2 separate regions of the Homo sapiens genome follow, and region 1 is linked to region 2. Evidence: fine-mapped expression QTL. A gene starts in region 2. The other region holds a variant in brackets. All regions are shown on one strand. Distances are from middle to middle.

Evidence for each region.
Region 1: its variant is fine-mapped to the expression of OR13A1 in esophagus mucosa (GTEx, PIP 0.91).

The regions. Positions count from the first base shown.
Region 1 is chr10:45,394,390-45,396,889 of GRCh38, reverse strand. It overlaps ALOX5 (arachidonate 5-lipoxygenase), which reads right to left. Exons shown (of 14, transcript NM_000698.5): 3 at 954-1,035. Among named protein-coding and RNA genes, the nearest start is that of ALOX5, 21 kb to the right of the region's middle. The variant T/C (reference allele first, on the strand shown) is at 1,149.
Region 2 is chr10:45,314,229-45,317,288 of GRCh38, reverse strand. OR13A1 (olfactory receptor family 13 subfamily A member 1) reads left to right here and starts at 1,681. Exons shown (of 4, transcript NM_001004297.3): 1 at 1,681-1,765.

The sequences.
Region 1 (2,500 bases), 80 kb before region 2:
ATTCCTGGGCTAAATCCCACATGTTCATATTGTTTAATGCCTTTTATATACTTCTGGGTTAGGTTTGCTAGTATTTCGTTGAAAATGTTTATATCTATATTGCTAAGGGATATTGGTTTATAGTTTTCTTGTGATGCCTTTAGTTTTGGTATAATATGGGTATGAGACAATGAATTGGGAAGTGTTCCTTCTATTTCTTAAAAGAGTTTATGCAAGATCAGTATTAATTCTTTAAATGTTTGATAGAATTAGCCAGTGAAGCTATCTGGGTCTGGGCTTCTATTTGTGGGAAATTTTAGAATTAGTAATTCAATCTCTTTGGTTGTGATTGTTTTATTCAGATTAACTATTTCTTCATGAGTCAGTTTTGGCAGTTTGCGTCTTTCTAGGAATTTGCGCATTTCATTTAACTAGTTTGTTGGCATGCAATTGTTCATAGTATTCTTTTTTATTAATTTTAATTTCTGTATTGATTTTCCCTCATTTTATGAGTCTCATTTTTCCTTTTTTATTCATTTTAATTTCTGTATTGATTTTCTCTTATTGCTCATTTTAATGGTTTGAATCCTCTGGTCAGTTGGCTGAAGAGTTGTCAATTTTATTGCTGATCATGTATCACTTTTATAATTGAATTGTTATAAGAAGACATAAGAAGTAAGAGGCAACCCCTACAATGGAGAACATTAAGGTACACTCAAGCTTTTCTGCCCATTCTTCCTACATGCCAATATGGTTGATCCAAAGTTATTTTCATTACTCTCCTCTCCATCTCTTGTCTGGAGTTGTAGGTAAGGTGAAGTTTGGGGATTGTGCACCCACACTGGGAGCTGGTGCCTTGGTGACTTTCCAGCAGTGACAGGCCATACACTGTGGAAAGGGTTTATTTCATACCATGCTCTTGAGATAGAAGAAACCATGGCCCCGTGGCCACTCGATCTGATGTCATAACTCACCGATATTGTTTTTGCCGTGTTTCCAGTTCTTTACGTCGGTGTTGCTTGAGAATGTGAATTTGGTCATCTCGGGCCAACTTTGCTGTAAAGAAAGAACAACATGAGAGGAGCCTGAGGAAGAACAATAACAATGCCCAATGCCAAGTGTTCAGGCTTCCCTCAGATGCCCTGCCCATGCCGAGTGCTTTATGTGCA[T/C]GACCTCATTTGAGCCTCAGAGCACTTCCCCAATTAATGATGAAGAAACTGAGGCTTAGGGAAGTTGTGTAGCTTTGCTCTTGAACTTTACCCAAGGTCACACACCTAATTAGTGAATTTTCTTTTTTTTTTTTTAATTCTACTTTAAGTTCTAGGATACATGTGCACAACGTGCAGGTTTGTTACATATGTATACATGTGTCATGTTGGTGTGCTGCACCCATTAACTCGTCATTTACATTAGTTATATCTCCTAATGCTATCCCTCCCCCTTACCCCCACCCCATGACAGACCTTGGTGTGTGATGTTCCCCTTCCTGTGTCCAAGTGTTCTCATTGTTCAATTCCCACCTATGAGTGAGAACATGTAGTGTTTGTTTTTTTGTCCTTGCGATAGTTTGCTGAGAAGGGTGATTTCCAGCTTCATCCATGTCCCTACAAAGGACATGAATTCATCCTTTTTTATGGCTGCATAGTATTCCATGGTGTATATGTGCCACATTTTCTTAATTCAGTCTATCATTGATGGACATTTGGGTTGGTTCCAAGTCTTTGCTATTGTGAATAGTGCTGCAATAAACATACGTGTGCATGTGTCTTTATAGCAGCATGATTTATAATCCTTTGGGTATATACCCAGTAATGGGATGGCTGGGTCAAATGGTATTTCTAGTTCTAGATCCCTGAGGAATTGCCACAGTGTCTTCCACAAAGGTTGAACTAGTTTACAGTCCCACCAACAGTATAAAAGTGTTCCCATTTCTCCACACCCTCTCCAGCACCTGTTGTTTCCTGACTTTTTAATGATTGCCATTGTAACTGGTGTGAGATGGTATATCATTATGGTTTTGATTTGCATTTCTCTGATGGCCAGTGATGATGAGCATTTTTTCATGTGTCTGTTGGCTGCATAAACGTCTTCTTTTGAGAAGTGTCTGTTCATATCCTTCGCCCACTTTTTGATGGGGTTGTTTGTTTTTTTCTTGTAAATTTGTTTGAGTTGTTTGTAGATTCTGGATATTAGCCCTTTGTCAGATGAGTAGATTGCAAAATTTTTTTCCCATTCTGTAGGTTGCCTGTTCACTCTGATGGTAGTTTCTTTTGCTGTGCAGAAGCTCTTTAGTTTAATTAGATCCCATTTGTCCATTTTGGCTTTTGTTGCCATTGCTTTTGGTGTTTTAGACATGAAGTCCTTGCCCATGCTTATGTCCTGAATGGTATTGCCTAGGTTTTCCTCTAGGGTTTTGATGGTTTTAGGTCTAACATTTAAGTCTTTAATCCACCTTGAATTAATTTTTGTATAAGGTGTAAGGAAGGGATCCAGCTTCAGCTGTCTACCTATGGCTAGCCAG
Region 2 (3,060 bases):
CATTCATACCCCAAACCTCAACATCACACAATATACCCAGGTTACAAACTTGCACAAGTGCCCTCTGAATCTAAAATAAAAGTTGAAAAAGCAAAAATAAAACAGTAAACAACAACAACAACAAAACAGCAAAACCCTCAATAAATACATAAATAAAAATATAAATAAATGTCTTTGCCAGAGCTTTTTGTTTTTTGTGTGGCTTTGAGTTAGTATCTGGGGTCACGTTGCTTTTAAGCTGTTTGCTATCAACTGCATCCTATCTAATATTTCTTTTTCTTAATAGTAAACCACTCAATTTTTGTGAGGAGATATTACATTGTGGTTTTGATTTACATTTCTCTAATGATTTCCTTTCCAGTTTGGATGCTGAGCATTTTTTCTTATGTTTTTTGCCCATTCATATATAATTTTAAAAGAAATGTCTATTCAAATCCTTTTGCCATTTTAAAATCATATTATTTTTAAATATTGTGTTGTAGAAATTATTTATATATTCTGGATATTAACTCTTTATCAGATATATAATTTACTAATATTTTCTTCCATCCACAAGTTTTTTTTAACATTGTTATGTCCTTTAATGCATAAAAGTTTTAAAAAGTTTGATGTAGTCCCAATTGTCTATTTTTTCTTTTGTTGTCTGTACTTTTGGTGTCATATTAAAAAATAATTGCCATATCCCCTTATTCTAAGAGTTTTATAGTTTTAGATCTTCCATTTAAGTTTTAAATCCATTTTGAGTTAATTCTTGTATATGGCATAAGACAAAGTTTCAACTTCACTCTTTCATGTGTGGATATCCAAGTTTCCCAACACTGTTTGTTGAAGAGAATGTTCTTCCCTCATTGAGCGGATCTGGAATGCTGTAAATATTATTTGACCATATATGTGGAGTTTTCTTTTAATGGGTTCTTTATTCTATTCCATTGGTCTATATGTCTCTCTTTAAGCCAGTGTCATGCTGTTTTAATTACTGTAGTCTTGTAACATGTTTTGAGATCACGGAGCATGAGACCTTCAACTCAGTTAGTTTTCAAGATTGTCTAGTCAGAGTATATATGAATATTTAGATAAATTTTTCTCTTTTTTCAAAAAATGCAGCTTAGATTTTGATAGGGATTACATATAATTTGTAGACTGCTTTGGGTTCTATTGACTTTTCAAATTAATACATAATGTTGTACAGATTTGGGGAATACATCTGATATTTTGGAGATCTTAACATTAAATCTTCCAATCCATGAATACCAATGTCTTTACATTTATTTGTGACTTCTTTCAGTACTGTTTTGTAGTTTTCAGTGTACAAGCCTTTTATTTCCCTGGCTAAGTTTATTCCTAAGTATTTTACTATTTTTGATGGTATTGTAATTAAATTATTTTCTTAATTACCTTTGGATTGTTTATAGTTAATTTATAGAAAGGCAACTGATTTTTGTGTGTCGATTTTGGATCCTGCAACTTTCCAGAATTTGTTTAATAGTTCCAACAGTTTTCTGGATTTTATGCATATATGCATCTAACAGTTTTCTAGATTTTATGCAGGAGTCTAGGATTTTATGCATATAGGATCAAGTCATCTGTGAGCAGAGATAATTTTACTTTTTTCTTTTATTCTTTGGATGTCTTTTCTTGCTTAATTTTTTTTTCCTAATTGGTCTGCTTGGAAATTCAAATACTATATTGAATAGAAGCGAAGAGACAGAGTATACTTGTCTTGTTCCTAATCCAGAAGAAAAGTTTGAATCTTTTACCATTGAGTGTAAGTTTACCTGTGGATTTTTCATATATGGCCTTTATTATGTTATTTTCCTTCTATTCCTAGTTTGCTGAGTGTTTTCGTGATAAAAGGTGTTAAATTTTGTTAAACATTTTTTCTACATCAATATAAATGATCATGCTGTTTTGTCCTTTATTCTATTACTATAGTGTATTACATTGATTTTTGCATGTTGTATTATTCTTTTTTTTTGAGATGAAATCTCATTCTGTCATTCTGGCTGGAGTGCAGTGGCATGACCTCAGCTCACTGCAACATTTGCCTCCTGGGTTCAAGGGATTCTCCTGTCTCAGCCTCCCAAAGTGCTGGGATTACAGGCATGAGCCAGCACACCCTGCCACATGTTCTATCATTCTTGCATTCCAGGAATAAAGCCAACCTGATCATCACAAATATTGGTCTGTAGTTTTCTTTTCATGTAATGTCTTTGTTTGACTTTGAAATCAGGGTAATACTGGCCTCATATAATGAGCTTTGAAGTGTTTTTTATATTCATTTTTGTAAATGACTTTGAGAAACATTGGTTCTAATTCTTCCTTAAATGTTTGGTAGTCATCCGGTTCTGGGCTGTTGTTTGTTTGGAGGTTTTTGAACCAGTTTAATCTCCTTCGTAGTTATAAGTCTGTTCGTTTTTTCTACTTCTTCATGATTCACTCTTATTAGGTTGTATATTTCTAGAAATTTATGCACTTCTAAATTATCCAATTTGTTGACATATAATTAACTGTTGATGGTATTTTCTTATAATCCTTTTGATTTCTATGGCATGGGTTCTAATGTTCTCTTTTTTATTTCTGATTTATTAGTTGAATCTTTTTTCCTTAGTTAATCTAGCTAAGCATTTGTTAATTTTGTTGGTGTTTTCAAAAACCACCTCTTAGTTTTGTTGATTTTTTTCTATTGTTTTTATATTCTATATTTCATTTATCTCTGATTTAATCTAATCTTTAGGATTTTCCTCCTTCTGCTAGCTTTGGGTGTAGTTTTTTTTCTCTCCTAGTTTCCTGAGGTATAAAGTTAGGTTGTTGATTTGCAAACTTTCTTCTACTTCTTTTTTTTTTTTTCTTAAGTTGTGGAGATGGGGTCTTGCTTTGTTGCCCAGGCTGGTCTCAAATTCCTGGCCTCCAGAAGTTCTCCTCCCTCAGCCTGTCAAAGTGCTGGGATTGCAGGCATGACCCACCATGCCTAGCCACTTTCTTCCTTTTATAATGCACATATTTATAGCTATAAAATTCTCTGTTAGCACTGCTTCTGCTGCATCTTACACATTTTGGTAC